Linked DNA regions of Homo sapiens: region 1 is linked to region 2. Evidence: fine-mapped expression QTL. A gene starts in region 2. The other region holds a variant in brackets. All regions are shown on one strand. Distances are between the middles of the regions. Region 1 holds the start of SCAF1 (SR-related CTD associated factor 1). Region 2 holds the start of IRF3 (interferon regulatory factor 3).

Region 1 (5,362 bases), 21 kb before region 2:
GTGCTCGGTACTTGAAATCCCGGCAAGCTCGGCGGCGCTTTAGCTCCGCCTCTCTCCTCCTTTGCTCACGAACCCCGCCCCAGCCCGCCCCGCCCCGCGCCGGGGCCGGAGCCGCAGCCCGAGCGGCGGGGTAAGATGGCGGCGGCAGTCCGGGCCGCGGGGCTCGGGCCTATTGGGGTGGGCGGGGCGGAGTTGGGTCGCTAGTTGTCCCGGGGTCCTCCCCACAAGCCACGGGTCCTAGAGGGCTTCTCGGGGCGGTCTCGGGCCCGGCAGCTGCGGCGAAACCTGGCGCCGAGAGGGGGGCCTTCTCAGGGCCCCGGGACGCATCCGTGGGTTCCTGGGGGCGTCTATGGGGCGTCTCCGAGAGGACTTGGGGCGTCTCTGGGCCTAGACCGAGCCTAAGGCCTGCCCTCCATCACACAGCTGGCCTGGATCGTGTCTGTAGACACTGTAGATTGTCTTTTTGGGCTGACCGGAGGCTAGGGTCTGGTTAGAGGGTTCTGGGGCCATCTTGAGATCTTGAGATATGTCCCAGGGGTGAAGGAGGGTCTGCAAGACCTGAAGAGTATCTTCAGAGCCATCTAGAGGCCTGGGGTATGTCTTTTAGGGCTGGAAAGTGTCTGCATGGGCTGGCCTGAGGATGCAACTGGTCTGCATAAGTCTGGGGCCATTTATCAGGCCTAGAAGGAGTGTTCAAGGGCTAAGAAGTCATTTAGGGCCCCCTAGGGGGTTGGGTTATGCCCACCAGGGAAGGGCGCCAAATATTGAGATGTACTGAGGGTCTGGGGTCTCCAAGGTATGGGTAGTGTCTAATAATGGGTGACAGGAGGCTGGGGGCAGTTAGAAGGACCTGGAACCATCTAGATGGCTTTAATGTGACTGCAGGAATGCAGTTTTGATGCCTGGAGCAAATTCGAATGCCTTTGGGGTCAGAGCAGCTTGTGGCGAATAATAATACGGAAAGAGAATGAGGAAATTTTGCCCAGCTTAGATATACTTGCCCTTCAGACAGTAATTCAAATGAAAAATGTTTTAAGATTCTGCATTACCCTGGGGGTTATTGAGAGAGTTAGAATTAATCTACATTAGTCTGGAAGAGTCTGGAGGGTCATCTAGACCCACTATTACAGTGCTTTTCAAGGGGAAACCTGGGCCATGTTGACCGTGATCTGCATTAAGATACATTTTTTCATTGAGACCTGGTACAGACAGTCATAATGTATTTAACATTATATAACATAATGTATTAACATTAACTCACCTTCCACGAATTGACATTTCCACTTACTACTTGTGCTGTGCTGTGAAGAACTATTTTGTTCTATTTACTTTTTAAAACAAGCTATTTGTGAAGCACTAAACTGGTATATGACCCTGTTGTTGGGGAAACCACTGATCCAGATAGGACCTAGCAGTATCTGCAGAGCATTCTTCTGTTCAGAAGATCTCAGTAGCTGAGGGTGTGTCTGCGAAGCCTGGTGCTTTCTAAATGAGCAAGCAAGCATCTTTGTATACTGCAGAGGGTTTGGGGATCCCTCAGCCTGTAGTCAGCAGATGTTGATTAAGCTTCTGATATGTGACAGTCACTGTTGTAGGTAGCATGTGCTTCCCCGGGAGGTGCTGGAGAGCAGTTCCAGGGCCAGGAACTGGGGCTGAGCTTATTGAGTATTGGTGAAAGAGGCTGGGATGTAATAGACTATCAGGGTTGGGTGTGTCTTAGGAAGTTAGGAATTAGGTGGAGCTGGGAGGCTGAATATGGAGGCTTGGCATGGTTTGAAAATCTATATGGGATCTAGAACAGGACCAGGGCCTTGTCTTTGCAGGCATGCTGTGGGGGAAGCGAGGAGACAGATGTAGGGGAAACCTGGGCGTTAAGGGCTAATAGTGTCATTCCTCTTCATCCGTATTGAGCACTTGAGGTGCTCTAAATGTGTGGCAGAAGTCAGGCTTTGAGTATTCACAGCCATTCTCTGAGATAGATGCTCCTATTTCGTGCATTTACAATTAAGCATACTGAGTTGTGGGTTAGGGATTTTGAAGCTTTCTAGGAATTTTGAGATTGGATATTGTCTTATGAGTAGCAGATTTGACAGTCATGGGGAAGCTTACAGCTGAAATATTCATATTTTTCTGAAGCCCTAATCAAGACATCCACCTGTTTGATGGATGATCTTTCAACTGCCTGACTGGGGAATCATATCAAAGAATTTCCATGACATTGCAAAGGCTTTGTGCAGATGGCGATAGGTAAATGCCTCCTGTGAAGTTTTCCTTCGGCATGTCTTTCTGAAGTTTAGCGTTTTCATTTTAAAAATGGCATACTGGTTTTGCAGATCACTCAATGAAGTTTCCAACTTAGGTGTATAAATACAATTTGGGGGTGGTCCTCACCATCGAGGACAGTTGATGCTCTAGGAAGCCGTGTGGTGTTTAAGGCATGGTGTTGAATATTGCCCAGCACATTGGCCTTGGGAAAGGTGGGTTTATAGGACTGTGGAACACACCCTTTGAAATCACAGTGCAGCACACACAAAAAACCTTGGTGTTGGCTTTGCCTCTTAGGAGGCCAGGGAATGAGGTCTTGAAGTTTGGATAGGTTGTTGGGGAAGCTGCGGGAATTGAGGAGTGAGATGTTAAAAGCGGAGGCCAGGGAGGCCTCCCTTTGACATAAGAGGCACCTGAGACCCAGAAAAAAGGAAGAGAATTGCTCCTAGTCCCTGGGGTGTCTGTGCTGGGTCCAGCGCCCACCCAAGCACAGGGTGGAGTGGGAGGAGGTGGAGGAGAGGAGGGGTGCCAGAGGGGATGCTGAGGGAGATAGTGTGGGGCCCTTGAGGTCTTCATGTCTATCCTCTACTTCCATCCTTTCTCCCGGGACCTCCACTCCAAACTCT[C/A]CCCCCTGGACCCCCAGGTGACCATGGAGGAAGAAGATGAGTCTCGAGGGAAGACAGAGGAGTCGGGGGAGGATCGGGGCGATGGTCCGCCAGACAGAGACCCCACGCTTTCTCCTTCTGCCTTTATCCTGGTGAGGCTGCTGGGCTCCTGGCACTGAGGGATGGAGGAGCTGGGCATCCACACTCCAGGGGCCTGACTCCAGGGCCTGAGGCAGGGGCGCTGGACTCTTGGCTCCCTTGAAGCACTTGAGTCTAGCTGTCAGTGTCTGGGATGTCTGTCTCCCAAGGGGCAGAGGTTGCAAAGCATCTGCCTGGGTCCTCTGACGCTTGGTTCTTCCCCCCTTCCCCAGCGAGCCATCCAGCAGGCTGTGGGAAGCTCCCTGCAGGGGGACCTGCCCAATGATAAAGGTATGGCGGCTTCCGGTTCCTTTTAGCCCCTGCCCCCTCTCTGCATTCTTTATCCTAATGTCATTCATACAAGCTTTTCTGAAGCCTCCTGGGTGCCACCCTTGTGCTGGCATGGGGAGCCAAAAATGGGCAGACACCCTGTAGCTGCCTTGGAAGGGCCTAGTGTGCAGTGGAAGGGAGACAGGCACAGTGCTGGGAGAGGGCAGGAGGCCCACTTGAGCTAGCATGGTGGGAGACGGGTCAGGGCACCTTCCCCGAGCAGGGACAGTGAACGGCTCTCTAAGGACCTAGAAGAGTCTAAGGACCTAGGATTAGAGGGAAGCCTGATCAGCTGCAGCAGGCCTACAGCACGGGTGCAGCGGCGAGGGGCTGCGCTGGGCTTCCTTGGGGCTGGCATGCAGGAGGGTGTGAGTGGGGTTGGGGGAGGCAGGAGAGGTCTGTGGGGACTGGATCCCAGCAAGGCCTGAATGCCAGGTTGAGGTGTCTGAGGGCAGACAGGAGGACGAATGGCTGAGCGTCGCAGCCTCTGAAGTGGGTGCTGGGAAGTCCTCCTGGGAGGTGGCGCATGGAGGCCTGGAGAGCATGCGGGAGGCTGGTTCCGCTGTCAGGAACTAGATCAAGCTCCTCTTTCCTCTACCCCGCAAGTCTCTGCAGCAAGTCCCCTGTGTCCAATCCCCCATGCAAATCTCTCACCAGATGGCTCTCGGTGTCATGGCCTTCGATGGCGGCGCTGCCGGAGTCCACGGTCAGAGCCCCGTTCCCAGGAATCAGGGGGCACTGACACGGCTACTGTGAGTAAGAAGAGGGGGCTGGGGGCCTGGCTCACGGGTATCAGGGAGGAAGGGATGGGGGCCTGAGTCTGGGGGAATGGGGTTTGGGGACCTGGACTCCTGGCTCTGCGATGCTGACCAGGGGCAATGTTGGAGAGTCTGGGGGCCTGATCTGTGGGCCTGAGCTTTGAGTGTTGATGGCAGTCAGGCTATAGGAATTAGATCCTCAGTTTTCTTGGGGATCTTAGATGTCTGGGTTCCTGAGAGGTTAGGGAGTGGGGAAGCAGGATTTGCCAGTCTTCATGTGACCAGGGACGGCGTAGAGCCTCTCTGGCCTCTTCCAGGTGTTGGACATGGCCACGGACAGCTTCCTCGCAGGGCTGGTGAGTGTCCTGGATCCCCCGGATACCTGGGTTCCCAGCCGCCTGGACCTGCGGCCTGGCGAGTGAGTAGCTGGGCAGCTGGAGTGGGAGAGGCCTCAGCGTGAGAGCCAGAAGCACCCCTGAGGCTCACCCACCCCTTCCGCCTTGCAGAAGTGAGGACATGCTGGAGCTGGTGGCTGAGGTCCGAATCGGGGACAGAGATCCCATCCCTCTGCCTGTGCCCAGCCTGCTGCCCCGTCTCAGGGCCTGGAGGACGGGCAAAACGGGTATGTGGGGCCAGGGCGGAGCTGGGCAGGTGGTCGTGGAGTTGTGTGGGGATCGGCTGTTTTTGGTAGTGATGGTAGCGGTGATCATGTTATTTAGACAAAACCTTTCCCTTCTCTTCGTATTAGACGTGATTAAGGCTGTAGGCGCATACAGATGTACATAAAGTAAAAACTGATGTGCTGGGGCTATGTGGGAGTGGTCAGCGTGTGTGACAACTGGTTTCGGCACGCTAAGTATTAGTGTCACTGCACTGGGCGTTCATCTCCCCAGGAGGGGGACTCTTCGAATCTCTATCTTCAGAGAAGCAGACAGCCTGAAAAAGGGCAGGCACTTGCCCAAGGGCGCACAGCCAGATGCTCCGTGGGGTGCCTGGGCCTTGAGCCCTGGTGTGTCTGAGTCTGAAGCCCAAGTTTTTGATGTCTGAGATGTGCGCTGCCCAAGGAGGAATCTCTTCCTCCAACCCCACACACAACGGTAACCCTGTGAGCCCTTTAGACCAAACGCGAACGCACATCTCAGTTGCAAGGAGGACTTGTTACTATGCACATCACTGGGCCCACTCCCAAGAGTTCTGATTCTGCAGGTCTGGGGTGGGACCTGGGAATTTTCATTTTAAACAATACATGCTGCTGAGCCCTGGACT
Region 2 (5,362 bases):
ACTAATGAACGCCAGGTGCTACCATTCCAACCCAAGGATCTGGCTCTATGCAGGTAAGACCTGGGCAAAGCAGGCTGGGTAGAATTTCAGAGGGGATGCTCCCCCAGCTTGGGCCTCAGCAGGATCAAGGTGAGGGAGTTTTTCAGTTCCCAAGAGGCTGACAGCCCCCTGCGAATCGAAATCCATGAAATCCCGGGAAGGTGTGCTCGGGCCTTGAATGCTGGGTGAAGACTTGGAATTTTCTCCTGAGGAGACCGGGGCAGGGACAGACAGGGTCAGCACTGGCTCAGGTGAGGGGCAGGCTGGAGGCAGGGGAGTGGGGGGATCGTCTAGAGGGAGAGGACAAGGCCCATGGAGACAGGTCGGAGACTGAGGGGCATGAAAGTTGGGCACATTCTCACCTGGGTATCAGAAGTACTGCCTCCACCATTGGTGTCCGGAGAGGTGTCTGGCTGGGAAAAGTCCCCAACTCCTGTTGAGAAAAGTGGTGAGGGGAGTAGGAGTGCCAGGAACCCTTGGGGCCCCAGCCTCCCACACGAACCCCAAGCTGGCAGACCTGAGTTCACAAACTCGTAGATTTTATGTGGGTCGTGAGGGTCCTTGCTCCGGTCCTCTGCTAAACGCAACCCTTCTTTGCGGTTGAGGGCAGAGCGGAAATTCCTCTTCCAGGTTGGCAGGTCTGGCTTATCCCTCCCGGGAACATATGCACCAGTGGCCTCGGCCCAGGCCTGGGGCAACAGTGGTGTCAGGATGGTGGGGGAGGACGACTTAGATCCTGCTCCTGGGGCCCTAACCCTGTCTCCCGAGTCCTAACACCACCCTCTTTCCCTGGCAAGTTCTAACTCTGCAAGGTCCATCCCCAAATCCCCCCGTCCCACCTACCTCCATCCCCCACCTCTAGTTTTCAAAAGGCTTTTTTTCTTTTTGAGATGGAGTTTCACTCCTGTCACCCAGGCTGGAATGCAATGGTGCAATCTCAGCTCACTGCAACTTCCGCCTCCCCGGTTCAAGCGATTCTCCTGTCTCAGCCTCCTGAGTAGCTGGGATTACAGGTGGGCACCACTACACCTGGCTAATTTTTGTATTTTTAGTAGAGATGGGGTTTCACCATGTTGGCCAGGCTGGTCTTGAACTCCTGACCTCAGGTGATCCGTCCTCCTCGGCCTCCCAAAGTGCTGGGATTACAGGCATGAGCTACTGTGCTCGGCCTCTTCAAAAGCCTTTGAAACCTCTTTGGTTTTTGTTTTGTTTCGCTTTTGTTTTTAAAGAGATGGAGCCTATGTTGCCCAAGCTGGCCTCAAACTCCTGGGCTCAAGCGATCCTCCCGCCTTGGCCTTGCAAAGTGCTAGGATTACAGGTGTGAACCACCGCCCCCGGCCCAAAAACCTTTTCTTTCTAAGCCAGGCTTCCAAGTCCAACTTGGTGTCTAATCCCGTGCACCACCTGCCCCGCGACACCCTCTGTGATAACCCCGCCCCTCACACTGTTTACCACCTCTGGCATATACTAATTCGGTAGTTAGGAACCTCAGATTTGGGGCTCCAGGCCTCACCTCTGATGTTTCAAGAACCATCCCCCAGTATCTATCCTACAACCAAGAGCCCCGGCCTCTAGAAAGCCCCAAACCCCCAGGATGCATTTCCTTTGCGTACTAACCGGCTTTCCCGGTTTTATTCCCGTAACCCTGCAGCTCCAACCCTGCTTGCGCCCCACCATCAGTCAGCGGATCCGGCTAGCCCCGCCCCTCCCGTTCTAGCCCCACCCACCAGCGTTGGCACGAGCCCGCCCCTCGCGCGCCACCTCCGCCTTCTCAGCCGGGCCCACTAGGAGTCCTTTCCGCCCAGCGCGCAGCTCCGGGTTTCCAGCGTCCCAGGTCGTCGCACGCACCTGGAAGATTCCGAAATCCTCCTGCTGTGCATCCTGCCGTAGGCCGTGCTTCCAAGGGATGCGGAAGCGCGTGCGGCTCTTGTTCACCCAGGCCACGCCCTCCAGTTGCCCCAGGTCCAGCTGCGACACCAGCCAGGGCAGGATCCGTGGCTTTGGGGTTCCCATGGTCCGGCCTGCGCGTATAGGGCATTTCCTGGGCGCGACCGGCCTCCCCCGGACCCACCTGGCCTGGAGTTTCCGCACCCAGACCTCCTTCTCACGGGCCACGGCACAGGTCCTTCACCCATATTTTCGGGGGTACAAACAGGAAACCTCCTCTTCCCATCCTCCCATCCTCCCGAGAGGCTCTCTAATCAGCTAGGGTTCCTTCCCATATCCATGGCACATCCTTCCCCAGCGTCTTCAGTGCAGACCCTCCACTCCCTCAATTCCGCCAGTATAGACCTCCTCCCTCCCCCACATCATCGAAAGTAAGTATCCCCACTTTCAGGGTAGCATCCTCTTTCCCTAGTTATTTCAGTGCAGAATCGATTCACGTGTAAGCCTCTACCTCCTGCACTTACCCCAATGTAGACCCCCTTCCACAGTCCCCCTACAGAAGATCTCCCAAAACATTTCCAACACAGAACTTCCATTCAATTCCCCTCCGACTGCCCGCCTCCCTCCTCCAGGACAGAGCACGCCCCAGGTTTCGAGACTGAACTACCCCCATCTACGGAGTCCACCCCTCCCTCTCTAGAACCCCCTCAGTGTAGACGCCTCCTCTTTTCCTCTTTCCTCCCTACTTTTTCTAGTTTTTCTGCAGCCGACCTCCAGCGTCGGCCACTGTAGCTCCTTCCTTGCTCCACTTTCCCCAGAGTACACAGCCTGCCTTTCCACTCTCCGTGCAGACCCATCCTCTTTCCCGCTCCTCGCTCTCGGACGCCACCAACGCTCTCCCGGGCTCTTCCGCGTTACCTACGATGGAAGGTCGGGGCGTGCGGGCAGCTGGAACCCACCCCTGTCTTGGAGCTCCGGGTAGCTCTCAAACTCGAGGCTGCGCACCCCCTTTCCCGTCAGCTGAGCTCTAGAGCGCTGGGGCTTTCTTTTTGATCGACTTCTTGAAATAAAACCAACTTTATCATTCTTTGGGTAACAGACCCAAAAGCCGATGGGACGGCCCGCTGGGCTGTTCCCGCCCCTATGCCCTTTTTTGGGTTTCCGGCCAGAGGCATGCTGGGAGCGTCACATGCAAATTGAGCGTGCACCCAGCGTTCCGCCCTTTCTACGCTGGGCCGGTTATCGACCCGGCCCAGTGCGCAGGCGCGGGAAAGTTGAACTAATAAAGTTTGTACGAGTTCAGTGGAGGAGACCGCAAGTTGAGTGGAGGAGGCGGCGGTGGGGCCCCGGACCAGGTCAGCGGGGTGTTGACGAGGGGTGGGGTGAGGAGGGAAGAGGAGGGGGCCGGGATCCAGTGGTGGGCACCCCAGTCCCGCTTCTCTGATATCCAAGGGTCCAGGGTCCTCTAGATTCCAGCAGGGGTCGGAGATTTGGAACTACACCTCACAGCAGGCTGCGCGGCGAAGAAGCGCGGACCTAGGGGAAGATTTGCCCTGAAACCTCTTGGGATTGGTAGTTCCCGATGCTTTAAGGGTTTCAGGAGTTTGGCATATGCCTCTTATAGAATCCAGGAGTTGGGGCGCTAAGCCTCTTCTTCCTGGGAGACCTAAGGGTCTGGGGCTCCAGTTCCTTTTTCTCTAAGACTCAGAAGTCCAGGACCCCAGCTCCCTCCTCCTTTAGACCCACGAATCTGGGCACCCAGCCCCACCACCTTTCCTTGGATCGAAGAGTCTTTTTCCTGATCGCTTTTTCGTCTGAGGACTCAAGAGTCTAGGCCCCCAGACCCACACTCTCCAAAGGACCCAGGAGTCCAGGCCCTCAGCACCTTCCTTGGGACTCACAAGTCCTGGTCCCCAAGCCTCCACTTCTTGCTAAACCCTTGGAGTCCAGTCCCTAACCCTCTCTCTCACAGGTGCCTCCATGGCAGGCTCTGAAGAGCTGGGGCTCCGGGAAGACACGCTGAGGGTCCTAGCTGCCTTCCTTAGGCGTGGTGAGGCTGCCGGGTCTCCTGTTCCAACTCCACCTAGGTAAGAGGAGTGGCCCTTCTCCCCCAGGGGCCAGCATTTGAGGCTCCCTCCTAACTCTTGCTCCTGGTCTCAGTCTGTCTCCTCTCTTTATATCTGGCTCTATTCTCTGTCTTTGGGGTTTTGGAGAGAGGTCCTCAGCGGGGGAGGGAGGGAGTTGGGGAAAGAGACTGCTTGCAGGGGATCTCTGGTGGGGTCAGTCTCTGAAGTCCTCCTCTCCAGAAGCCCTGCCCAAGAAGAGCCAACAGACTTCCTGAGCCGCCTTCGAAGATGTCTTCCCTGCTCCCTGGGGCGAGGAGCAGCCCCCTCTGAGTCCCCTCGGCCTTGCTCTCTGCCCATCCGCCCCTGCTATGGTTTAGAGCCTGGTAAGAGATTTCCATGATCATCTATGAAGCCGGCAGAACACGGGATAAGGTGCTAGTTTAAGATCACTCAGCTAGGGGGTGGCTGTGTGGAGTCTCTAGCACCAGCCTTCAGGACAGAACCGTCCTGTCCTCTCCCCTCCCCAGTTAGATTTCTGTCAATTCTGTGGGTTGGCTTTCAGAGAGCATTTGGTCAATCTGGTTGTTGTCTCTTTCCTTCCATAACTACTTCCCTGCCCCTAGGACTTTTGTAGCCAGGAATACCCCTGATAGAGGGGCAGAAGGGCTGGTTTTCAATCACATCTCCCTGGCTGTTTTAGTTGCGTGACTCTGGGGAAAATGCTTTCTCTTCCCTGCTCCCCTGTTTTTCCAATAGCAGAGTAGGAATTGGGGAGGAGGTCACTGGACTTGATCAAGGTGACCCACAAGTTTCCTCATAGGTGTGAACCTGGACAGACTAGTAATGGCTGCTGGGAGTGCTAGCTTGAAAAGGGGTTCACAGCTTGGGAGAGGAAGTGCTGTGATCAATTGGTGATGTCTGTAGTGAGTGAGGGAAGGGGATACTAACAGTAATGTCTTGTGTTTGCCTTCCTTGGATGAGATCATCTTCAAGGTCTAGTTGAGCTCTGACAGTCTTTTGGAGACAGATTGTTGCTCTGTCACCCAGGCTGGAGTGCAGGGGTGCAATCTCGACTCACTGCAATCCCCACCTCCTGGGTTCAAGCGATTCTCGTGCCTCAGCCTCCCGAGTGACTGGGATTACAGGTGCACGCCAGCATACTAGCTGATTTTTATACTTTTAGTAGACACGGGGTTTCGCCACGTTGGCCAGGCTGGCCTCAAACTCCTGGCCTCAAGTGACCCTCCCACGTCGGCCTCCCAAAATGTTGAGATTGCAGACGTGAGCCACCGCACCCTGTCAGCTCTGACATTCTTTTTTTTTTTTTTTTTTTTGAGACGGAGTTTCGCCCTTGTTGCCCAGGCTGGAGT

What was found. PIP is the estimated chance that this variant, and not a neighbour inherited with it, causes the effect.
Region 1: its variant is fine-mapped to the expression of IRF3 in prefrontal cortex (GTEx, PIP 0.93).

Annotation. Positions count from the first base shown.
Region 1 is chr19:49,642,113-49,647,474 of GRCh38, forward strand. SCAF1 (SR-related CTD associated factor 1) reads left to right here and starts at 97. Exons shown (of 11, transcript NM_021228.3): 1 at 97-130; 2 at 2,909-3,022; 3 at 3,242-3,299; 4 at 3,996-4,090; 5 at 4,414-4,514; 6 at 4,603-4,718. The coding sequence starts at 2,915. RefSeq lists a silencer at 18-307. The variant C/A (reference allele first, on the strand shown) is at 2,892.
Region 2 is chr19:49,662,787-49,668,148 of GRCh38, forward strand. It overlaps IRF3 (interferon regulatory factor 3), which reads right to left and starts at 3,071. Exons shown (of 8, transcript NM_001571.6): 1 at 2,845-3,071; 2 at 1,888-2,060; 3 at 557-728; 4 at 402-472. The coding sequence starts at 2,052. BCL2L12 (BCL2 like 12) reads left to right here and starts at 3,147. Exons shown (of 7, transcript NM_138639.2): 1 at 3,147-3,281; 2 at 3,899-4,013; 3 at 4,233-4,375. The coding sequence starts at 3,907. RefSeq lists silencers at 3,050-3,199, 3,240-3,319.